Regions from separate parts of the Homo sapiens genome. Here regions 1 and 2 are each linked to region 3. The links come from fine-mapping of genetic effects on gene expression. A gene starts in region 3. Each other region holds a variant in brackets. All regions are shown on one strand. Distances are from middle to middle. Region 1 has its middle 54 kb from the start of PKDCC. Region 2 overlaps EML4 (EMAP like 4). Region 3 holds the start of EML4 (EMAP like 4).

Evidence for each region. PIP is the estimated chance that this variant, and not a neighbour inherited with it, causes the effect. A credible set is the group of variants that fine-mapping cannot tell apart.
Region 1: its variant is the best candidate, but not a certain one, in a credible set for the expression of EML4 in whole blood (TOPMed, PIP 0.75).
Region 2: its variant is the best candidate, but not a certain one, in a credible set for the expression of EML4 in sun-exposed skin (GTEx, PIP 0.85).

What each region holds. Positions count from the first base shown.
Region 1 is chr2:42,098,202-42,106,555 of GRCh38, forward strand. No RefSeq gene overlaps it. Among named protein-coding and RNA genes, the nearest start is that of PKDCC, 54 kb to the left of the region's middle. RefSeq lists enhancers at 761-1,080, 1,271-1,330, 2,804-2,883, 3,102-3,929, 3,854-4,373 and 1 more and silencers at 1,451-1,540, 3,064-3,443. The variant C/G (reference allele first, on the strand shown) is at 3,479.
Region 2 is chr2:42,280,345-42,288,974 of GRCh38, forward strand. It overlaps EML4 (EMAP like 4), which reads left to right. Exons shown (of 23, transcript NM_019063.5): 7 at 506-629; 8 at 2,479-2,628; 9 at 4,290-4,359; 10 at 5,925-6,035; 11 at 7,883-7,978. Among named protein-coding and RNA genes, the nearest start is that of COX7A2L, 77 kb to the right of the region's middle. The variant T/G (reference allele first, on the strand shown) is at 3,829.
Region 3 is chr2:42,165,204-42,173,833 of GRCh38, forward strand. It overlaps EML4 (EMAP like 4), which reads left to right and starts at 4,150. Exons shown (of 23, transcript NM_019063.5): 1 at 4,150-4,433. The coding sequence starts at 4,409. It overlaps EML4-AS1 (EML4 antisense RNA 1), which reads right to left and starts at 5,028. Exons shown (of 4, transcript NR_110584.1): 1 at 4,767-5,028. RefSeq lists enhancers at 3,732-3,871, 3,884-4,536 and silencers at 3,952-4,001, 4,102-4,161.

The DNA.
Region 1 (8,354 bases), 67 kb before region 3:
CCAGCCTGGGTGACAGAATGAGACTCCATCTCAAAAAACAAAAAACAAAAACAACTTTCAGAGGTGCTACAGCTAAGTCTGCTGTGAATGTGGACAGCTGTACTTCAATGCTACAAGACACAGGAGCAATGAACCGTGAGCTTCAAAGGGTCCACACACTGATGCTCTTTCCATGACAAGATAAAAATAAGGCCACACTGAGACCTACCAGGTGCCAAGTACCTCCTGGCCCTAACTCCCCCCACCCCCACCAGGCTCCTGGCCTCCTCAATCCTCAAGGACTGACCACCTAGAAAATCTCTCTCCTTCCCTTCCCTCTCCTCTGCCATGCCTTTCCTTCCCCTTCTCTTCTTTCCTCTGCTGTTCCTTAAAGCCCTGGGGCTTCTGCCCCCAGAACCCTGAGGGGAAAGTCAAAGGGCTGAGGGAGCCCACCCGCTTCTGAGCAGTGCAATGAGGAAGTGATGATCAGAGGTCACTGTCTTGGTCAGTTCCTGTTTCTGAAGCAAAGATGCCAAAATCTGTTCCTTTTTCTTGTGAAAAAATATTGGGGTTTTGACTTTCAAAATTCCCGGAACCAATGCTGTCACTGTGAGTTGGCTGCGTTTCTGTCTGCCTGTGTCTGTGTGAAAGGTCTGCCAGGGCCTCCTAGGCCTGCTCCTTGTGGAGGAGTGTCCAGAGGCAATGTTGGAAGTGACATCTCATTCCCTGACGCTCCTGAGTCCCACAGACGCCCATCAGGCCGGTCTGAGGAGGGGCAAGTGCATCAGGACAGACCTGGCTCGGGTCTCCTATTTCCTCCCAGGGCCTGGCAGAGGACTTGCTCTGAAGGGAGCCCCTCCCCAGGCCTAGATCAGGCTACTTGGAAGTCCCTGAAGTGGTGGAAACTTCAGCAGGCCACTCGGGCTCAGGTGATGTGGGCTAAGTTGGGAAACTCCATCTCTGTTCTGCTTCCGAGCTTGAAGCCATCCTACCCTGGAGGCAGGCAGACAAAGCCACCACCATGCTTGCCCCCAGCCTTGGGCCAGGGCATACCTCCCAAGCCCTGGTTTTATTTGAAATGGCTGGACAACACCACTTCATGTAGAGATCATGGATCCATCCACCTTGTGGAGCCCTAAGCTGAGAAATGAGGTACACCAGCATGGGGAGCAGAGGTGGGGGGATGGTGGGCTACAGAAACAGGTGCAAAGCAACTAAGCCAAACTCAGAGCCTCAAGCCAGGGTAAGAGAGAGAGAGTGGGGGTTGGCATTGAAGTTAGTATCAAGGTGTGCAGTTCAGAGTGGTCTTGGGGAAGCGGTGGTGCTAGACCCTCTGGACTGGGCCCACCTCGGAATGGCAGGTAAGAAAGGGCAGGGCAGGGTCTGGGTAGCAAGTTCTCTGTGTATGCAGGAAGCAAAGATGAGAGCTTTCTAGCAAGTTTCACATCTGGCCTGTGTTTCCTCTGGTCTCTGCTTTCATTTATACTGTCCCCACCCAATTCCTTCCTCTTTCTCTCATTCATTCAACAAACAGGTGGTGCATTTACTGTAAGGCAAGCACAATTCTAGACAGCAGGTTTGGATGTGTATCCCCTCTAAATCTCATAATGAATCGTAATCCCCATTGTTGGAGGTGGGAAGGTGTCTTGGTCATGGGGGTGGGTCCTGCATGGCTTGGTGCTCTCCTCACCATAGTGAGTTCTCACGAGATCTGGTCATTTAAAAGTATGTGGCACCTCTCCCCCCATGCTCTCTCTTGCTCCTCCTCTGGCCATGTGAGATGACAGCTTCCTCCTTTGCCCTCCACCATGATTGAAAGCTCCCTGAGGCTTCACCAGAAGCTGAGCAGATGACAGCACCATGCTTCCTGTAAAGCCTGCAGAAACATGAGCCAATTAAACCTCTCTTCTTTATAAATTGCTTAGTCTCGGGTATTTCCTTATAGCAACGGGAAACTGGCCTAAGACAGTAGGTCCACAAAGTTAATAAAAGATTTAGCCAATCTCTGCCCTTATAGAGCTATTGTCAAGCTGGGGAGATAAGTTCACAAGCAAATATTCATGATCCAGTGTGAAAAGTGCGATCACGTGGCCGTGGAAGCAGATGGAAGGAGTAGAAGTTGCGGGGATCAAGGAATAATTCATAGAGAATAGACGCCATTGGAGCTGGAAACCAGAGAAGGGCAGGAGGGTGTCAGTACAGCAGTCTGCAGCGGGAAGGGTTTAGGGGTGCAGGGCAGATGGTAACGCCTCTCAAACGCCACTCTTGACTGGATCTGACATCCTAGTGGAGACTGATGGAGGAAAGAGATCATGGATCCATCAATCAGTCCCTGTTCCAAGTGCCAGGGGCCACCTTCCTAGCAGATGTTATAGGGGACCCAATCTAAGACCCTCAATTCACCTTCCCCTCTTCCACTTCCCCAGCCAAATCATGTTTTTGCTTGTGTCCGGGGGAAGCTGGGAGCTTTCTCAAGCTAACCCAACCCCCAGGTTTTCCATCTTCTCATGCCTCCACTCCCCAGTATAGTGTAAAGCGGCCTCCTCACTCAGGCCCAGGTCAAGACTGACCTCAGTGCCACCCTCCCGGCTCTGCCTCTAAACTTCACCCACCACAATGCAGCCAACAATCTCACAAGGGGCCGGCCTCTCTCTCAGGGCAAGCCTCATCCCCTAGAAGCCGACTCCGCCTGGCCCACCATGCCTGCAGCAGAAAGGCCTGAGGCTGGGCCTAGAACACTGAGGACGTCAGTGGCCAGGACTTTCCAAAGCTGAAACTGGGACCTGCGGAGGCCTCACTGTCCGGAGCAGCGTCCAGGTCCTCAGCATCCTCTTCGCTGGGCCCCACGCGTGTCGTGCGCCACCCCAGAAGGCAGGGCCTGATTCGGATCAGCAGGGGCTGCAGGGCCGCTCTGCAGGTGGGTGACTCAGGCCCCTCTTGAACCCTTAGGCCTGAGGCAGAGACTGGGCAGGAGGCTGGGCGTGGCCGGGGAGCCCCTTCACGTGCTCCCCTTCTCGAGGGTTCACGGGGCTCTGGAGGCCCAGATGCTGGCAAAGTGGCGGGAGCGCTCCAGGGACGAGGACTCAGGTCGGGGCGCCCCCGCCAGCGCCAGGATCCCCGCTCACCCTCCGCCGCGCCCCGCCCCCGCCCCGACACACTGGGGGAGCCCCGCCCTCCCCGAGGCCCGCGCGGCGCCGCAGGAGGAATCCCAGCCATTTCCTCCACGCTGCGCGGTATGTGGCCTGCCCGCCGCCAACCGCAGCGCGAGCCGGTCCCCAGCCGCGCCTGGCAGCTGCCCCGGCTCCGCCGTGCTGCTCGGGATTCCGGGAAGGCCGCCCCCTCGTCCCGGGCCACCAGACCGGCCTTTCCAGCGGCTCCAGGCCCGTGCAGTCCCGCCGGACGCCGGCTACACCACGCGCCGCTGCTGGAACCTCTCCCAGCCCCGCGTGGCCGCCCCCGGCCCAGGCACCCCCTCCCCGGAACGCCCCCGACGGCCCCT[C/G]GCGTCCGAGCTGGAAACTGAAGTTGACGCTTGCTCCGTCACCCTGGGGCAAATTGCTTTGCCTAAGCCTCAGTTTCTCCATCTGTGAAATGGGGACGTTGGCAGGAGTGCCTGTCTCGTTGTGCTGCCCGAGGGGTGAATGAGAAAAGGAAAGCGTTGGACTACTGTCAACGCGATTTTCATTTCCCTAGGTACCACGAGGGTCCTGGCTTTTCGCACAGGATCTTAGCACCCACCCTGCCCCTCGCCTCTCCTCCAGCCCAGTTGCCGGTGGAGCAAGCAGGCCGGGCTTTGCGAGTGGGCAGAGGAGAGGGCTGGGGCCTGCCCAAGACTGCGCCCTGCACAGATTAAACAATGCCTGAAGGTCCCACGACACAGCCTTCCTCGAGATTCACCGTTGCCCTCTCCTCAATCACTAGGTTCTTGAAAGACCCAAAGGACAGTTATTTACATTTTTTTTAAATGATGTCATCGCAGTCTGAGAGCAGCCAGACACGTAGTGATCAGGGAAAGTCGAAAGTGCAGATGGGTTCGCAAACGTGGACTCTCTAGTTTTGGGTCTGCAGATGGGGCCGGCCACCACGTGCTCTCTGAGTTCTCTTTCCAAGTACAGATCCCTCCGGAGACGGAACATTGTTCCGCCTTTAATTCTTCCCAGGAGCTGCGGAGGAAGGCGTGAGAACCGGAGCCCGGGGTGACTTGCGGGGGAGGGGATCGCTTCCCCGTCGCCCACACCTGCCTAACCCACGCCCACGGCGGCCGCAAAGGCGACACCGCGTGAATCTGGAAAGCCCCGAGTTTCAACAGGCCCAACCATCGGCGGCTTTGCAGGCGCAGCACCAAGTGCTGCTCTGCCTGTGTTCCCCCAGACAGCCCCTGGTTGTGATTTGTCGTTTCCAGTCCAGCTAGAGTCCCAAGGCCAAGAACTAGACCCTTGCAGCGAGATCCGCGCCCCCCCCCACCCCACCCCGCCTCATTCTCCACAGGCGCCACAGCCACAGGCCGCATAAATAAATCCAGGTGGAGGCAGACCCAGAAACCCAGGTGCTATAAATATCCCAGCCCAGCCGGGAGACTGACCTCCCAGGCAGCCCCTCGCCCCCACCCGCCCTAGACCAGCACTTCCGGCCACCACAGCGCTGAGGGCGGATCTCCCCGCGGTGGGAGGAGCGGGCTCCACCAGGATGCAGGCCTGGCTTCCCTTTCTTTCTTCTCCTGGGAGCCTCTGGCGGCCCAACCTGAGGGCTTGCCCTCTTCTCTGGAACCACCTCCCTAACTCTCAATCGCATACCTCTCCCTCCCTCCCCCTGGTATTTTTAGAGAGGCCTTCTCTCAGGGACCCCATACTGCGACCAGACTTCAAGAAATGCTGACTTCTCTTTCTAGATGAATAAGCATAGTTGGAAGGCAACAACCTCAATCAGAGTTTACAATCTAAAATTTGATTCTAAACTTTTTCTTTTTGAAACAGTCTTGCTCTGTCACCCAGGCTGGAGTGCAGTGGCGTGATCATGGCTCACTGCAGCTTTGACCTCCCAGGTTCAAGCGATCCTCCCATCTCAGCCTCCCTAGTAGTTGGGACTACAGGCGCTGTGCCACCATGCCCGCCTGGCTAATTTTGTGTTTGTTTGTTTGTTTGTTTTTGTTTTTGTTTTTTTTTTTGAGACGGGGTTTCACTATGTTGCCCAGGCTGGTCTCGAACTCCTGGGCTCAAGCGATCTGCCCACCTCAGCCTCCAAACATGCTGGGATTACAGGTTTGAGCCACTCTGTCCAGCCCTTGATTCTACATTTTTAATAGCATTTTTTATGTGATTAAAACACAGGCTGGAGGCAGAGTAGACCTAAAAGAGGGGAAAGAAGAAGCTGAAGGCATATGCAAAGAAGAGATAGAGCCACACTAGAAAAGAAAGCTGCTCTACCAGAAGGCTGGTACCTAGGAACTCAGTGGGACTTTCTGAGCCCAGTCTCCTGGGTCTGGGACTTGGTGTGGTGCAGTTCAATAAATCCCTATTGTGGGGGGGGGGCGGGGTAGAAAAGATGTGAGATACCTTTCCTCACCCTTCATAAGGGTCATTGCTATAGCAAAAGACTGATTAACAAGAGAAAAGCATAGCAAATTTACCGAATCAAAGTTTTATGGGACACAGGAGCCTTCAGAAATGAAAACCCAGTGACCCAGGGAAAACTGTCTATTTTTATGCCTAGGTAGAAATACACACTGTCCATTCTTCGTTGAACCTAAGCATAAAAATAGACAAAAGGATGCGATCTAATGGTAACAGACTGAGGGGAGAAACCCAGCAAGGCCTGTCTGTTCAGATTCTTCTTGGCCTCTCTGAGCAGCATTCCTTCCTCCTGGGTGTGGGGCAGGGGCTTTCTGGAGCACGGGTCTTATAACTCACAGTCAGAGGTAGATCAGAGAATCTCTTCATGGCCAGTGCCTACACAGAAAGGCAGGGGGAACTTAGAGTAACAGTTCTAGATTTTATGGCTTGCTTTGGGGGAAAGGGATTCTAGTTATTATGACCTGCCATAGGGAAGAGGAATTCTAGTTTCTATGAATTCAGGGAGAAGAAGGGGTGGGAAATAGGGCAAGAGAAGTTCAGAGAGAGATTTTACTTCTGAGACTGCTTCTAAGGCCTTCCAATCTCCTTTAGTTCAAAGTACTCAGCACGCCAAGGCATTATACTTTGACTTATCATTTTCTGAGCCCCAGCAAAATTTAAAACATAGTGAGTGAGTCTTCTAAACATGAAGTCACACCCCATTTCTGATGTAGAAGCTTACACTTTAGGAACTGCTACGGAAGCACTTTGCAAGCGCCATCTCACTGAATACTACTTAGAAGGAACTATTAACTCCCCGTTTTACAGATTAAAAATCTGAGTTTAGAGAGACTAATTAACTTGCCCGAGGACACCCAGCTAATAGGGGAGAAGTTTGAACCCACGGATCTGATTCCAGAGGTCATGTGTTAAACCTGTGCTGTACAATAAACTCTGCCAGTCTCTCTGATCAGAGATGGAAAGGACTCTATTGCAGTCTTCAGCCATCCTTCACAGTGAGGAAGACCTTCCTGTTACACTCACCTGCCTTTAGTCGACCTGAGTGATTGCATTCACATTGAATTCGATGGCTTTCCTGAGGGACCCAGGCAACCTATACTGAGGAAGAAACTATCCATAGGAACCGGATTCCAAATGAACTAGATGCAAGTCACCAAGGCCAGAGTCAGTCCTGGGCCAGCCTTTCCAGTATGATTTCAGGACCACAGGGCAGCGCCACTGGCATTTTTGCCAAAAATCAACCATAAAAGAACCATTGTGCTTAACACCAAACACATTTAATCCAAAAGTGTGCTTCCATTTATGCATGTCACTGCTACCTCACCTTGGTCCATGGTCCAAGGTGACTCAAATATGTATTTTATCTGGTACACCTAGCGTTTTTTTAAAAACGAATTAATTACCAAAAATTTTAAATTGGAAGATTATACCGAAATATCTGGATTTGTAAACAGTTTCCCCAAAACTAAAAATCTGGCCACACTGACCTGTATTCTGCAGTCTACCACAGGCTCCACCATCCCATCCTGTCTCTTTCTCTCACCAACTGCTTGGCCCACCCCTCCTCTCACACCAAAATGCAAATATTCCCTAAACAGGTAACTATTGAATCTAACTAGTCACATCGCAGCATGGAGATCTTATTCTGAGAGCTGGTTAAGGGAAATTAATTGAGGTAAATTACGGAGAGAAAGCATTGCTCCGCCAGACAGCGTCAGGCCATGGCCAGAGCACAGCAGAAAAGATTTCTACAGTTCTATAAAACCACAAGACGAGAAGTTGGTGTTTAAACAGCTGTTATGAAACTAGGGTGTGTGACAGAAACATCACCTGTTTCCCAAGAGCTCATCCTCTCACTTAATTCAGCAAACACCAAGCTTTTCTTAGCATCCTGGGCCCCCTTCCCTGCAACTCTTCTTTGGCAGTGCCTTGGGTGATAGTCAGAGGCAAAGTCTGGAGGTGATTAGATGGCTGCCGACTTAGGCTATAAGCGAGTCCAAAGGAATGGATCTGGCTTTTGATCAGGACAAAGCTACGTCCAGAGGAGAAGCTGAGTGAAGAGGAGGCACCAGTGATAAACTTGGGTTTGAGCAGCCAGGATGGAAGCACGATCTCATTCACCAAGATGGTGAGCAGCTGTGTTCTCTGAAACACAGACCACGTGAGCAAAAATTGTCTTCCCCCAATTTGGAGGCTCCTCCCGCCAAAGCAGTTTAATGGGCAGGCAGAGAGGAGGCAGAGTGAGGGAAGGTTTTATATGGAAATGTGGGAATGAATGAAAAGGCCTTACTTAAAAGGATCTATCTGATAGCCCTTGGGACAGCCTCAACCATCCCCAAATGCCTCTCTGGGGGGTGGGGAGGCATTCAGCTCTGTGGATATTTGAACTCCGACTGTTTTTGAAAGTCGCCCATGTGACAAATGTGTCAACAGAGCCCCGGATGTGCCCTCTGGGGTGGGGAGGAGGGTGGATGTGATCAAGTACATTTCAGGCTTTCAGAGAAACAGGAAATTCAGTAATCAGAGAGCAAAAAATCTATTCAATCTCTTTTAAAGCCAGTGAATAATGTAGCAGAGTCAGAATTGTCACAACCGCTGGGTGCAGCTTTGGAAAAGATGAAAGATGAGAGAATAGGAGAGGAGGAGGAGAGGCCCCTGCAGCTGGGATCACTCAGAGACACTCTCCTAACCTTCTCCTTCACCATCTGGTGGGAAGAAGGAGCCCCTGAAACTTCTCCTCGACCCCAACACTCACCGCCTCGCCACCATCATCTGCCTTGCATCCAAAGAAGCTCATCTCATCGTGCC
Region 2 (8,630 bases), 120 kb after region 3:
TTTTAGACTAGGACTTTATAGTATCACTTTGTTTTCTGTATGCTGTGTAATGTAGTTGGCCCTCTGTATCCATGGGTTCTACATCCACAGATTCAGCCAACCATGGGTTGAAAATATTTGGGGAAAAAAATTGTCTGTTATACTGAATATATGCAGACTTTTGTCATTATTTTCTAAACAATACAACAACTATTTACATAGCATTCACATCATATTATGAGTAATCTAGAGATGATTCAAAATATACAGGTTATATGTGAATACTATGCCATTTTGTATCAGGAAATTGAGCATCCATGGATTTGGGTATCTGAGGAAGGTGTTCCTAAAATCAGTCCCCCGTGGATACAGGACAACTATATAACAAAAACAATTGTATATAATGAGACTAAAACTTTGAAGTAGTCATTTTTGTCTTGTTTTTATTGTATCACGTTAATAATCCACTTTTGTATGACTATACAGAAAATACGTATGACTTAACTTTTGTCTTGTGTTTCAACAGAAGGAGAATATATTAAAATGTTTATGCGCGGTCGGCCAATTACCATGTTCATTCCTTCCGATGTTGACAACTATGATGACATCAGAACGGAACTGCCTCCTGAGAAGCTCAAACTGGAGTGGGCGTATCCTTCTCTACCATGACAGCAAATTCATTTGCTTTGTCTCTAGTTAACAAATCAGTTAACGTATTCTCTGTCAAAATTGTCTTTATACAAAAAAAAAAAGTAACAGCTACTTAAAAAATTAAAAAGGAAACATCAGGCCAGGCGCGGTGGTTCACGCTGGTAATCCTAGCACTTTGGGAGGCCGAGGCAGGCGGATCACAAAGTCAGTAGTTCAAGACCAGCCTAGTCAACATTGTGAAACCCCATCTCTACTAAAGATACAAAAAATTAGCCAGGTGTGGTGGTGCATGCCTGTAATCCCAGCTACTCGGGAGGCTGAGGCAGGAGAATCACTTGAACCCGGGAGGCGGAGGTTGCAGTGAGCCAAGATCACGCCATTGGACTCCAGCCTGGGCGACCGGGGAAAACTCTGTCTCAAAAGAAAAAAAAAAAAAAAGGAGACATTATCTCTAATTCTTTGCTGTTAGCAATTTAAAGCCATCAAAGTTTATATCTTTGGAAAGGATAAACAATATTTTTTGAACATCATGGCAAGTACTTGCTAGAAAAGGCACTAGACTGGAACTGGAAGACTAGTGTTTGAGTTTTGGCCCTGCCACTTACTCTCCGTGAACCTTAACTTTCTTTACTTATAAAAGGGGTTAATTAATAACCCATACCTCACAGGGGCTGTTGTAGGAATTAAATAAGAAAACATCAGTTAAGCATTTTGTAACCTCAAATTAACAAGGCTGATTCTAATTCAGAATTAACTTTTCAGCCAGACTTTTTTTTAAATGACTGTTAAAGGAGAGCTTTCCTAATTTCACCTAGAAATTTTCACTTCTTTTAGAACCTCCAAGAAACTCAGTGAAACAGAAGGAGTTGGTAGTTTGAACTCTGTTGTCTGCCTCCATTCTCCTGCACTTCCTCCCACGTCCCTTGAATTATTCCCTTCTTAGGCAGATATCAGCTTGGACACACTCACCAATCCTTTCATTCTGTACAACATATTTTTAACAAACATTCTGCCTACCAAACTGTTCCTTGCTATTACTTATTTATCATTTAGGTCCAGCATAAATATCCCTTTTCCAGATAGGCCTTCTTTTGGTCCCTCCCTTCTCTCTCTTTTTCTCTCCATCTAAATTAGGTCCTCCATTTGGGCTTTCTCCTAGCAGTCTTTTTTTTACCCCCCCACGATTTGTAATTTTATATTTGGTGATTTTTTTTTTTCTTTGCCAGAGGATAAGCTCTAGAGACATAGGGCCTACATTTTTTTTGTTCAGAACTGAATGTTCACCATTATGCCTGATACACATTAGGATTTCAATACATATTTGTCTGGTAAATGAGGAAACTAAGATCTTAACATACTGAAAGAGTCAGGTTACGCTAGGGATAATGGCAGGATATGAGTTTTCCTTTTTTTTGGTGGAGGGGTGGGGGTGGGCGGCAACAGGGTCTCTGTGGCCCAGGCTGGAGTGCAGTGGCACGATCACTGCTCACTGTAGCCTTGACCTGACCTCCTGGGCTCAAGTGATTCTCCCACCTCAGACTCCCAAGTAGCTGGAACTACAGGCACAGGCCACCATGCCTGGCTAATTTTTTTTATTTTCTGTCGAGATGGGGTCTCACTATTGCCCGCACTACTCTCAAACTCCTGGACTGAAGTGATCCTCCCACCTTGGCCTCCTGAAGGGCTAGGATTACACGTGTGAGCACTCTGCCCGTCCAGGACATGAGTTTTCTAGTTCTAGTTCAGTCTTCTTCATTGTACCTTCCTAATTCCTTAAGTATCCATGAAAAATCTGTTAACAACTTGAAAACTGTGTTTATTTAAAACCTTGACTCTTTTTCTGTTAAGATATGGTTATCGAGGAAAGGACTGTAGAGCTAATGTTTACCTTCTTCCGACCGGGAAAATAGTTTATTTCATTGCATCAGTAGTAGTACTATTTAATTATGAGGAGAGAACTCAGCGACACTACCTGGGCCATACAGACTGTGTGAAATGGTTGGTATCATTTAACATTGGTTCATTTTTGTTCTTTCAGGCCCTCATTTTGTATTTTTTAAATTTGGGTTTTATTGAAAGTGATTTCTTGTGGAAAGCTCAGAATGTAAAAATATTATGGGTCATCTGTTGAATATATTTTAAAAAGAAAAAAAGGACTTTCGGCCTCCAAAATGGTGGTGTGGTATCAGCAGCAACAAAACACATCCTCCATAAATCATGATTGGAACCTCTTCTGCTTTCTCATGTCGTACAGTCCTTCTCTTCTCTGGTCTGTAGTGTGAAACATATATGGGACAGACTGGACATTTTCAGGTTTCTGAAAGTGATTATTGGTTACTCGATATTTATTGAGGATTTGTCCTATGTAGATAAATTTTATACTTGAAGCTTTATTCTTTTGGGAAGAAAGAAATCTAGCTGAATAAGGATCATAAGTATGCCGTAGGATGTCATACTACAAATGTGAGAACTCCTTTTAAATGCTTTTAAATTATTTTGTTACTTTTTAGTTAAATGCAATTATTTATTGTTTATTAATATTTTCCAACTTTTATTTTTTATTTATTACCCTTTTCCCCACTTAGATCCAAGGACTGACTGGATGTTTTCCAACATTTAAAAGCTTTTATGTCTGTACTATGCTGGCACCTGTATCTTTATCCAGAAAAAAATTAATAGATGACTATTATAATATTATATAGATATTGAACTTTTGGAGTTGATTAAAATATTGCCTTTTACACTTGCAGAATAATGTATGTACAAAACTATTTACTGCAGCATTGTTTGTGATGAAGATTAGAAACAGCCTAAGTATTTTTCAGTTGGGGACTACTGGTGAGGTTGTAGTGTACCTATAGGTCACCATGTAGCTGTAAAGAATGAGGAAGCACTTTATGTATTAATATGTAAATATCCCTCTGATGTGTTCTTAAGTACAAATATTTAAGAGCAAGAGAATGTTCACAGTGTACAACCGTTGTTGAAAGAGTCTAGATATGGACATAAAGATGTCTTTTTCAGAAATTTGCTAGTCACTCATATACGTGCTGTGAGTAATTTAGGCACATATGCTACGCTACTTCCCATTTCTATTTAAAAATTCCTTGCCTCAGTTTGACTTACAAGAATTTAGCGCTAAGAACTAATTAAAAGATTGAAAGCACTATGTGTGAAGATGCTCATTGCTGTTTTCTT[T/G]TGTTGAAAAGTAAGAAATGGCCTAAAAGATGGAAGAGTTGTCAAGTCAGCATGTATGAGGATTATGTAGCAAAAGGAAAAAATGCTTGTACTTTAATAGATTAAAATTAAACAGCACAATATTGCATCTTCACTATAATAAAGTCGTGTGATTTGTATGCCATTGTGCGTGGACTAGAAAGGAACTTCAGCAAATGAAAACAGTTCGTTAGCATGCCACAGTTATAAATATTTTCTTTGAACTTAGTGTTTCATTAATCTGTGCAGCTTAACAAGTAAAAAGTACAGCTGAAAATTCAGAAATCTTCAGATATTTGATGATTGTTTGATTTGCTGAAGAAAACAGATAAACGTATGTTTTTTAACGATTAAAAACTGCTTATTTGAAAAATGTCAGTACAAAGGTATTCTGTTGTTTCATGTTTCCTGTGTTTAAAATCATTCTTAATACTGCTTTTTAGCCTTGCTATACATCCTGACAAAATTAGGATTGCAACTGGACAGATAGCTGGCGTGGATAAAGATGGAAGGGTGAGTGGCATAGTGTTATGCCTTCTGTACCTAGAGACATTGCTGTTAGAGTGGAATCTATTGTAATTTTAACCACAACTCATTTGTTTTATTCTTTTAAAATTTAAGTACTGAGGAATTTCTAGTATAAGCATGGAAAAAACATTAGGATATAAGAACACTTTAAAAGACAGAGTCATACTAATAAATTTTGTTTTTAAAAAATAAGTGTTCTCCCTTAAGAAGCTATTTACTGTAAAAATGGGAAAACTGATACGCTCGTTACATTTTCTTTATATAAAATAACATATAAAGTAACCAGTGTCTGCGGGAAGGTACTGCAGTTTCCCTTAGTTGATGAACCTGTTGATTCTTATTTACTTTCTTAATTAATTAATTAATTAATTATAGGGGTGGAATCTCACTTCGTTGCCCAGGCTGGGCTCAAACTCCTGGGCTCAAGTGATCCTCCAGCCTTGGCCTCTTGAGTGAGTAGCTGGACTACAGGTGTGTGCCACCATGCCCGGCTAACTCTTGATTTTATGTGTGACTAGAACTGATACAACTTAAAGAGTTACAGTTACTATTTAATATTATTCAGTTGGTTTGTATAACAAATACCTTATTTCTAAGGATCAACAGTGACTATTAATGGTGACTGAGTAACGTATGTATGACTATACTCATGACATTCTCAGGCTTCAGTTTCTTTAAAGAAAAGGAGTAGAAGGTTTCTACTGGATAACTTCTAAGACCCCTTCCAGTTTCAAATGCTATTTAAGGGCTGTTTAGCAGTTTATTGGACATTGATAAAATGTGTTATTTTCTCAGGAATGAAGATTAGTAATACTAAAAGCAAAAGTATCCGGAGCAGATTTGCCTGGATTAGAATCCTGACTCCACCTTTTTTTTTTCTTTTTTTCTTTTTTTTTTTGAGACGGAGTCTTGCTCTGTCTCCCAGGCTGGAGTGCAGTGGCACAATATTGGCTCACTGCAACCTGTGTCTCCCAGGTTCAAGCAATTCACCTGCCTCAGCCTCCTGAGTAGCTGTGACTACAGGCGCGTACTACCATGCCTGGCTAATTTTTTATATTTTTAATAGAGATGGGTTTTCACTCTTGTTAGCCAGGATGGTCTTAATCTCCTGACCTCATGATCCGCCCGCCTCGGCCTCCCAAAGTGCTAGGATTACCGGTGTGGGCCCCCGTGCCTGGCCGACTCAACCTTTTAATAGCGGTATCACTTTGGGCAAGTTATTTAAATCTCTGTATTCCAATTTCTTCATCTGTTAAATGATAATTATAATAGTGTACCTGTAGTGCATAGGATTAAATGAATTAATATGTGTAATACTTAGAATAGTATGTGTAACATAGTAAATACACAAGTTATTTGCTGCTATTTTCTTATTTTCACAGTATAAGAAAATACCTACTTAAGATTCATTTGGAGGCATGTCTAAATCTAGTAATTTATTAGAAGCTTATCCATCCCTATTACTTTTTTAAATGGCATTAGTTCTGTGTGCTATTGGTGTTTATTTGCATCCACCTGTCCAGTTGCTCTGCTGTCTTGTGTTTTTGCAGCCTCTACAACCCCACGTCAGAGTGTGGGATTCTGTTACTCTATCCACACTGCAGATTATTGGACTTGGCACTTTTGAGCGTGGAGTAGGATGCCTGGATTTTTCAAAAGCAGTAAGTAACAATTTTTAGAGAAGTAAGCAAGCTGAACAAAAAAGCAGGAAAGAAGTTAAGCTCAGTTTTGTGTTTATGTGGCCATGAAGTGATAATCCTGAGTTGAAAAATGAGATGCTAGCTATTGCTAACATATTAGCTATTGCTAAATGGCTAGCATTTTGACCTAAGTCCTAAAGTACTTTGGTTTAGTTAGGATGCAAGATATTTTACTTTAATTATTCTTGGAATTATGCTGCCTTGAGGTAGAGCTCCCATGTAGTAGCAGGAAGTGGTTAGAGGAATATATACAAAGCATAGTACAATTTCAGACAAGCAATAGGATGCATTTTTGCCTTACCTTGAATCATAGAAAAGATCTATTTTATTTTAAAAATTCACAGCAAACTTGGCCAGTTCTGTACAAATATTGGCTTTTCTTGATGTCATATTTGAGCAGCAGAAACAATCAGACCTTTGTATTTCCTGAAGTCCTGAATTATCTTGGTTTTGAATTGATGACAACATGGGTTTAAAATTTTCCCCAGCAGTCCTTTCTAAGTGTTGAGGCTTTATTCTAAGGGTAAAATAAGACAAGATCTTACTCATTTAAACATTCTGGTTTTTTCTTGAATTGTATGTAATTATGATTATAAAGTATACAGTCAACCTTCTATATTTTAGGATACATACTTTTTTAGTTTCAAAGATAAATACCCCTGTAGATTTTATGTGACCTCAGTTATATATTCATATTATCTCTTCAGTTCTTAGCCATTGGCAACTGTATTCTGGATTATGGGAGTTTTGTGGGACATGGAGGAAAGGACACTTTTAGAGCAGAAAGATAAATTTTAGTGAATTTAGGAACTTTGCTAGCTTGAAGGCACTGAATGTCAAGGGTCCAACAAGTCAGGAATTGGGAGAAGGACATTTAGAAAAGGAGATAAGAGGTCATAAAGGCAATACTTTTGCTACTTTATTTTCTCCCATAAATCTCTATAGCAGGAACTGTTGTCAGGTTGTTGATAACCATTGTTACGGTGTTAAGACCATCTTGAATTGCCTCATAACTCTATCTTTTCTAATTCAGATAATATTCCAATTTAGGCTAAGAGATAAAGAGGAGAAGAGAGTAAGCTCTGCCCTTCCTCAGTGCCTCTCACTCTTCACTACAATGTTTCTCTGTTCCATAACATTGTAAAGCATATTTCACAAATGATACTATTTTTAAAAAGCATTTAATATCATCTATAGGTATTTTTCTTAAACTGGAATACTTAAAATACGTGAATGAGAATGGTTTCAGAAAAACAGGAAATTTCATTATAAAAAAGGAATTTCATTATAATTTTACTTAGGTTGTTTATTCAAGTTAATGTAAGTCAGGTATCTCACAGAAAACTGAAATCAGCAAACTCTAAAATAGCCATGAATTTTAGCTTATTCTGTCAAACTGTCAAAATTTAGTGAGGAACAAAGTTATGAAATTGTGTACATTTCTTCTTACCTACCACAAGGAAAAATAGCTTAATACAGGCAGCAAGAAGGAAGCATAAGATGCAGAAGGGACTAGGATAGCCTCAAAATTAGTCACTATCTCTGAATAATAGGAGTGACTAGATGGCAAGTGGAAATAACCTGGAGGGATGAGGGGATTTAAATAGAATATTTTGTAAAAGAATCTTTATATTTTTGAGGAAAATACAATTGTAGTAAATAGTGTATTCATTATGTTTCAGAGAGCGATGAGTTTAAAGGATTTTGGGTTATCTTACTATTTGCAGTTTTAATAAGATGGTATTTCTTTCTTAGAATGTTAGCCCTATCAGTGAATTTTAAAATGCCTCTGATTGACTTTTCTTTAGGATTCAGGTGTTCATTTATGTATTATTGATGACTCCAATGAGCATATGCTTACTGTATGGGACTGGCAGAAGAAAGCAAAAGGAGCAGAAATAAAGGTAAATTTTTAAAAAACCGAGTATTGTGTTTTAGAGTACGTTACTTGTTTTGCAGGTATTTGGAACTATATTGGTATTAGAACTATCTATTCGTAAGTCGCAAAAGCAGATCTACTAGCCAAATTCAGCAAATTTAGTGATTTGTCATAATCGTTAAGATATTAACACTATAGTTATACAAGATAAAATAGTCAAGCAACTTGAAGCAATTTCAATATTTCAGACATTACTATAGTCCTGAAATGCCAGAGTAGATGGATGTGTGATCTCATAATTAAGACTGAACACACTTCTTGGTTTTCTTCTTTAATAAAACATGTAATTTCATTCCATCTTTAAAGCTTTAGAAATCTAGAGGAAAAATTCAGTAGGAATACGACTGATGTAACTGAAGGGCTTATGTTAAGTTTTTTGGTCTTAATTGTGTTTGTAGGATTATTTTAGAAAATTCAATAGCATTTATAATTGCTATAATTGCATTATAACTCTTTACAGTACAAGGGTTGATCTCTGTGTAGATCAAGCTGTACGTTGTAAGAGAAGAATGTAAAATGCATTGAAGCTGGGTTTATATGAGCCAGAAATGGACTTCTCCCTCTGACAGGCATTTAAAAAGATTCAAAGTGATAGAATGGCTTTAAAAAGTCTGTGT
Region 3 (8,630 bases):
CATAAAAAGAAACTTTAAAGTTTGTTCCACAATCTCAACAAGTTCAAATCTCATTTCATGGCATAAATTCTGAATTAGCATTGGGAAAACTTAGCTCTGCAGGCAAGGCTAGTTGTCTTCTTTCTGTAGGTCATGGATGGCACCATGAGAAATGCCAAAATTAACCTCAATAGGCATTCGTTCACTCACTCATGCATCTATGCAGCAGGTCCTCCAAGTGAGGTATGGCTTGTGATCCCCACAGGATAGATTTCAGTCTCATAAGTTCTCACCAAGAATTTACAGCACTACTAATTGCTTGATTCTTTCCTGAAGTCAGCAAGTCTGGAAAGTCTTACGAGAGAGATAACCATCATGCCAAGATTGGTAAAACAGTTATTAAATAAGTATGATATTTTAAACCAGTCTCTACAGACACAGTTTATGAGTGTCTAAATATGCAGTGAAATATATTTTTTGTTTTTGCATTTTAATGTTTTCAAAAAATGAATACTTCTATGATTAAAATAAAATAAAAGTGAAATCCCCCATATCTCTCCTCTACCCTTTCCTTCTTCCACTTAATTTCATTTCTCAGAGGCAGCTACTTTTGACACTTTGGGGTATCTCCTCTCAAACTCCTTTTATTTCTCTTGCAATAATTTTGAAGTTCTCCCTAGGCATTCTTTATGGTTAGAAGCTAGAATAACATTGCCATTTAGCTTCTTATAGATTTTGGAATTCTTTTACACACTGCTTACATTAAACATATTATAAAAATGAAGAATCCCTTTTTTCCCCCACTCAGGTATTAACTCTGATTTTTTTCTATCAAATTTGTGCTTACATGGACTACAGGTTTATACAATCTATATAGTTCCATGACTATAGGGTTTCATTTTTTAAATAACATTCAAATAATGAAATAAAAGGAACTGAAGACACAGCATACTTAAAAAAAACCCTTAATTTTCCTTGGCATTTATTTTAAAATGTCTGCGGGAGAGAAAAGCAAGCAGACAAAAACAGTTTATAGTTACTTTTCAAGATCATCTAGCTAGTGAGAGTAAAACAAAGAAATTGAATAGGAATCTTATTTTTCTTCAAACGTTAGGTCAAGACTTTGACAATGTATCTTCACAAGTATTCTGAAACTCCTCCCACAACATACTAACCTTGACATAGAGGGGAAGGTAAGTATGCAGAGTCAAGATTCGATGTATAAAGAGAATGTTCTGGCCAGGCATGGTGGCTGAAGCCTGTAATCCCAGCACTTCAGGAGGCCAAGGCTAGGCGAATCACTTGAGGTGAGGAGTTCGAGACCAGCCTGGGCAACATGGCCAAACCCTGTCTCTACTAAAAATACAAAAATTAGCTGGGCATGGTGGTGCACAACTGTAATCCCAGCTACTTGGGAGGCTGAGGCATGCTAATTGCTTGAACCCGGGGAAGCGGAGGTTGCCGTGAGCTGAGATCGTGCCACTGCACTCCAGCCTGGGCAACAGAGTGAGACCCTGTTTCAAAAACCAAAACCATAAAGGGAATGTTCTAAGTTTTCATTATTTGATACAGCTATATTTAGCCTTTTCCAATAACTGGGATCCTGAAAAACGGCACATATTTTGCATTTGCCTGAATTAAGTTATACTTAAGGAGCTCAAAGGGGCAATGGAACTCCACATTGAAAATAATCTAAAGATAAATCCTTTGTTAAGGTGAATAACCAAAATAACCCTCCAGTAATTCGTAACTGTTTAGAACCTTAGTATTTGTGTGTGTGTTTGATAATGTTCAGCTATGGTTTCACTTTTGAAAGATGTATGTTAAATTTTATTTTATCATAGTAGTATTAGAGGCTTAGATTGCAAGATGTACTTTGATAAATATAAAACAAAAATTCTGGCTGCTTTAAAACACTCAGGCACTGGTTGTTGAAACAATGTATTCAGATTGACTAGTTTTCAGAATTCTTCTATGTTTGTTCATTATTCAATAAATATTTATCAAAAAGCTGTTCTGTAATATGCACTAAGTATATAATAGAGAGCAAAAACAGGTACAAAATAAGAGCAGCTAATACCTACTGAGCACTTATAACATATTGTGCCCTGTTTTAAGTGCTTTACATATATTACCTCATAGCATCCTCTCAAAAACTCTAAGAAGTAGAAGTGTTATCATCTCCATTTTGCAGTCAATAAAATGGAGGCACAGAGAGGTTAGGTAATTTGTCCAGTGTTTCATAGCTAGTACATGATGAGTTGGGATGTGAATCTGGGCAGCATGATTCCAGAGTCTGCACTCTTAACTGCTGGGATGTACTAACTCTCCTACATTTTAACAGCTTTCCTTGTAGTATACAGTATAATGAATGAGATGCTTATTGAATAAATCATTCAAGCAAATGAAAAATTTTAACTCTGATGAATGCCACGAAGGGGAGTGTGGCAGAAACCAGAGAGCTGTTACCAAAATATGTCTCTTTTCCTTCTGGATACACAGACTACATTCCTAGCCTCCCTTGCAGTCATGTGACCAAGTTCTGGCCAGTGGAATGTGGACAAAAGGGAGGTACACACTTCCAGGTCTGGACCATAAAACATATGTATACCAATATGCCAAGTTCTTATTCTTTTAATCGACCTAAGGCAGAGAGTGTGGCCTGAAGACACAAAGGAACAGCTGTCAGAATTGAGAACTTCTCAAACATTTACTTAGGCTTAATAGAAACTTATGCATATGAAAATGCCCATAGCAGAAGGAACATTGGGTAAATCATTTAAGTTTGAAGAGAAGGAAATTTTAGACACCGTTTAGTCTGTAACCTGAATTTATCTTGGCTGCGTTATGGCCAGTCTCCATATAGTATGGTATTCAGAAACAGGTCTTATATCCAAATAAGAAATGCAAAGTAATTTACATTTTTAGGGAAGATTTTTAAAGAGGCAACAAAGGGAGACGTATACCCCAAGAAGGTTTAACAATCCTTTCAATCATTTAATTCCTCTAAGTCTCTCTCATCATTACATATTTCTTGTCTCCCTTCTTGTTTGTCCCTCTCTCCTGCAACTCTGTGTAGTAGGACTCTGTTTTCCCCTAACTCAGCTTTTTATTATGTATTTATCAATTTATTATGTATAGATCAATTCAGTTCTTCAGTACCTTACAGCTCTTCTCTCTCTTACTCTAATCTGCACAACTGAGCCCCAGGAGGGACTTGACAAACCATGAGAAAGTCTTTAGAAGTATGGGAAATCGTGTTGGGGAAGGGAGGAAGAATATGAACGCTATGTATATTTACATGTTTTGGTTACATGTCCAGACAACCAATTTGCAAATGAATAAAGTGACGCCTAAATAAATTAGGTGATTTGACACTCTTGAGTCATACGGAGTTGGGCCTAGAACTCAGTGTTACTTCATTTGAAATAACCCTTATTATGGTTCCCTAGCAGGCCATCCTATAGCCTGCCATATATGGTCGTTTTGCACCCCTAGACGACAGAACGCTAGGGAGAGTAAGGAAGGCTGAGTTTTTGCTTCTACTAGGTTCGATGACCTTGGGCAGGTTGTCCTCTCTAAGGCTCTGTGTTTTTCTTCATAAGAAGGGTTAGACAAGATGAACTTTTGGGTCATGTCCAGCACTAAAATTCCTTGCTTCTGATCTGTCCCGGGCCCTGCGGCTGTGGCAGTGGTGGTATCGAGCTAGTCAAGAAGCTTCGCCCCTATTTGTCCCCCACCCTATTGGGGGAGAGGGAGAACCTCTCCCTCTTGGTTGCTTCTTTAGTGTCCTTGTAGGACCCACGTGGTGGTCATCTCCCGTCACGGGGGTCCAGTCTTGGCTCTGCGGGCTTCCCAGGGGCCACATAGGGAGAGGATCCTTCATGCATCAGAGTATCGCAGGCCAGAGTCTATGCCTTATCCCCACCTGTTTGGAACCAGCTTCCAAACCGTGGTCCCCAGCCTTCAGCAGGCCTACCGCGCAGGCGCAACCACCAGCCTGGCGCGAGGCGGACAAACGCCGAGGCCGAGGCAAGGTGAGAGGGCGGGGCTGGCAAGACCCCGCCTCCGTGGCGTCACGTGGGAGGCGGAGTCGGAAGTGTGACGGCGTGCGCGGGGCGGGGCTACTGCTGCGCGCGGGCGCGGGGGCGGGGCGGGGCGCGGCGCGGCGCGGCGCTCGCGGCTGCTGCCTGGGAGGGAGGCCGGGCAGGCGGCTGAGCGGCGCGGCTCTCAACGTGACGGGGAAGTGGTTCGGGCGGCCGCGGCTTACTACCCCAGGGCGAACGGACGGACGACGGAGGCGGGAGCCGGTAGCCGAGCCGGGCGACCTAGAGAACGAGCGGGTCAGGCTCAGCGTCGGCCACTCTGTCGGTCCGCTGAATGAAGTGCCCGCCCCTCTAAGCCCGGAGCCCGGCGCTTTCCCCGCAAGATGGACGGTTTCGCCGGCAGTCTCGGTGAGTACGGCTGGGGAGTCCTGCGTCTTCTGCGAAGGGTAGGAACTTTTTTCCTTCCGCACACAGCCCAGGCCCTGCCCTCCCGCCTGCCCCTCGGGGTGGCAGCGGCTCCACTGCACATGTTCCCTTCGAGGCTGCCGCCCCTCCGCGGACTCCGGTGGACTGAGGGCCCCTCCCCCATGTCCAACTCTCCTCTGTGTCAGACCCTCCTTTCCTCCCGGAGCCCCTTTCAGTGCGGGGCCCTCGTTCCCCCAAAGTGGGAACCCCTTCCTTCTCAGGCCCCCCGATAGCTGGCACACCCCTCCCCGTACACTCACGGCTCCCTCCACTTACCCCCCTTCAGAGTTGGGACATTTCTTCAAATCCAGGCTCCTCTTCAGGGTACAACCTTCCACCACCTTTCCACATACACGCCTCTCTTTCAGGGTGGGGATCGCCTTCACCCGAACAGAGGCTCCTTTTTAGGGGAGGGACCCTCATTCCCTCTTCAGGAAGGGGGCATCCCCCGCCCCCAAGTCTTCACTTTAGATTTGAAGGCGACTTTCCAGTATCCTTCAGAGTAGTAGGCAACTTCCTTTTCAATCCCTCCACTTCTCTGAGCATTTTGCAGTGGTGGAGAGACCTAGAAGCATCGGAGCATCATTTGCTTAATGCAGGAAAGGAAGAGGTGCATCTGTGTTGGGGGACCCTCTTTAAGAGTGAAAGCAGAAGTGTTTTCTGGTTCTGCATACATGCTGGGGAGAAGTGATTCTGCCCAATGAATCAATAGGAAAGGGGGCCTCTATCAGGGAAGGAAAGGATTCTCCATTTTTGGAAGATGTTGTCTTTGTGGAATGGAGAAAGGGAAGAGGTTATTAAATAGGCTGAAGTGCCTTTTCAGTGTTCCTTTCACCAGATGAAGGTAATCTTCTGGCTAGGAAAATCAAAACTCCAGGCTAGTATTCGCTGCCCTAGAAGCTGAATCTGGAATTACTATTCTTCGAGGCCATTGAAATCTAGTAAAAGATTAAGTTCAACTGTTAGAATGGTGAGAGAAACAGTTTCAGCTTTGGCTGATAACGCAGTTGTGTGATACCTACTGCTGGAACTGTATTTTGAGTTTTTTATGTGCAGGTAGCTTGTATTCAGACGCCTTTCTTTTACATTTCTTGATAATAAGTCTCTACTTGGTTAATGTTCACTGATCAGTGAGCAGTCTGGCCATAGGCCGTACTATATCCAGATAATATCGAGATGAGATGGATTTTTAAAATCTAAAGTAAAAAAGTAAGTCAAAGAGCAATGGGCCTATTATAGATATTAAATAGTAAAACCTATAATTTTGGCCTTCCCTTTTTCTTGGGCAGAAAAAATTGTCGTTATATTGCTTTCAGAGTGGAAATCCTAAAATAGGAGGCAACTGAGTGTTGTGTTACTCTTTCCTCCTCAAAGGCACCTGTTGTCCATTATCTAACCTTTGATGTCTTGTAATTCCTTACTTAGGTTGGGCTCTTTTTAGAGAGACATCCATTTTTCCCTGGTTCTTTTTTAGCTCCATGCGTTGGTTTATTCACAGTAAGTGTTGGACCGAAAAACTTGTCCTATATGTCCGCTGAAGGGCTGATCTTATACTAAAGTAAAAATTGAGTGTCTTCTTAGGGGATGTTGTGGAGAGCTGTGCTATCTTTATACTGTATTGGGTCCTCATCCTGTAGGAGTGGTGAGATCACTTTAACTTCTTTCGTGTTGGCTCTAAAGATTTCTGGAGGGCTTGTTAAAGCTTCATCTTCTGTAAGTGTTTAGGAGGAGTCTTTCTCACCAGTTGGGGCACTTAATGTTTATTTTCAAACATTGATTATGCTTTGTAATAGCTTTCTTCTTTCTTAACCAGTTTATGAGGCAAGTGATACAAAAGACCGAGAGATGAAGATGAATTGCAGTTGGGGCTCACACTTTTCATAAAGAGCGTCATTGTTGACCCTAATGTTGGATTTAAAAAATTCATTTGATGCCATGCTTTGGGTGGTATGTGATGAGACTTTCCTTTAGATATGGTGTTAATCAGGAGCAGAGGAGATATGCCTATCAGAGGAACCTGCATCTGCAGAGAGGGAAGGAAATGGTTCCTGGCAGTATTTCTGGAGCTGTTCTTGATGAAGATACTTCTCAGTGGGAGCTCTGTGCTTTCTCTTTCTGTCCCCCTTGCAAGAGTAAAACTAGGCCCCATCTTAATTGAAACCTTAAAGGGGTGGGGGAGGAGTAGTGCTGGTATATTTTACTGGTAGTCTTTAAGCGGAGCTTTGCTCAGCTCTTGCCAAATTGCTTGTTTCTGTTCTCTGCAGTTAATTAGCCTAGAGCTTAGAGTTACATTGATCTTTATTTTACCATCAGGAGAGCCATGAATATAAAGGCAAGCACTTCTACTCTAGTAGGTGTTTAAAAACTTTTTTTTTTTTTAAACAAGAAGTCAAAACGTGAAGTTCTTCTGGGGTTACAACTATTGAAAGCATTTATTCTCAAGGAAGTATGTGTGTATTTCCTTTTACATATTAGATAGATTCTTGAAAAATGGTGAAAAAACTACATTTTTATAAGCAGAAAAATTGAGTACTTTATAAACAGAATAATTTTAGAGAAGAGATTATTTCAGAGAATCCTATGGTGACTCATTTTGTGAAGTGAAAACTTAAAATTCAAACTGTACCCTTGATTGTTGCATGTTTAGATAAGAAATCCACTGTGTTATGTGCATTTTATAAGATGTCTAATGGCAATTAAGACTAGGTAGTGGTTTTTTAAATCATAGGAATGATAAGTGATTGGCCATTTTATAAATGCCACATTGAAGTTACATGGTACTGATTATGTTATCTTTGTTTTACATAAAAAACAAGTGAAGAATTCTTTTAATCTCCGCAGCTGATGAATTTCAGGCAACTTGGCTGGCAGGTGCTTGTACTCTGGAATTTCCCTTAGGTATTATTAATATATCTTTTAATCCACAAATTATGGTAACTTAAGGCAGCACTTTAGAAACCTTTTTTTTTTTAAACTTAGGAGAGAAAAGTACTCAATTACCTTGATGTGTTGCCTCTAAATCACTACATATAGATACCCATGTGCAAAATGTATATACTGTATGTATATTAAATCTCAGGTCTATGTGCAAAAGTGGGAAGCTATTCATACAGCTTTTACCGATTTTTTATAAGGCAGGGATTGGGTGCATTTCATGCTTAATCTTTTTAGAATCTCTTTCATAATAGAGGTTTAATTTTAAGACTTTTATCTTGGAATTAACCTAGAGATTAGTCTGTTTTCACTTGAAAGAAACCTTATACCTAACCAGTCAGCTTTAAATTTTTCTGCCTCAAAAGTTAAACAACAAAACTTAAAATCTTCTTCCCCCTAAGAAAAATCATAGTGAATGAAATTGTTGGATTAGGATCTATAAGAAACAACATTCTGGGTACAGGTTGTAAATGTGAACAAGTATAGCAGTATGCTTCAACTTATGGACTATTCAGAAATTAGTCTTTTTAACATCACATTGTTAGAACTGTGATTTCTCATCACAGATAATAGTCTTGCTTTCTTAAAGGAACAATGCTGTATATGATTTTCACATATTAATCTAAAGCATTCCTTATTTACATGAAAATGTTTTTCATGTAATATTTGGAGAGGTTTTTTTTTTAAACTTTTTTTATTGGTTGCCTCTTGAAGAGTTCAAGATAGACTCAAGTTGTGTAACCAGACATGAGTAGTAACTCTTAAATGGTTAGTAGAGCATCTTCAACATGAGTTAGCTAGAGTGTTTTTCAACATATGTATGGATTAACATCGAACATGGGCTAGCACTATGCTTGGTGGTTCTTATGGGAAAGACAAGTAAAAGACATGCTTTTTGCCCTTTAGGAGCTTACTGCCTGGTTTTTAAATAAGTACCATGACTAGGTGCAGTGGCTCACGCCTGTAGTCCCAGCACTTTGGGAGGCTGAGGTGGAAGGATCGATTGAGCCCAGTAGTTTGAGACCAGCCTGGGCAACATAGCAAGACCCTGTCTCTGCAAAAAAAACAAAAATAGGCATAGTGGCATGTGCCTGTAACCCCAGCTACTTGGGAGGCTGAGGCAGGAGGATCACTTGAGCACAGGAGTTGAAGGTTGCAGTGAGCTATGATTGTACCACTGCACTCCACTGGGCCACAGAGCAAACC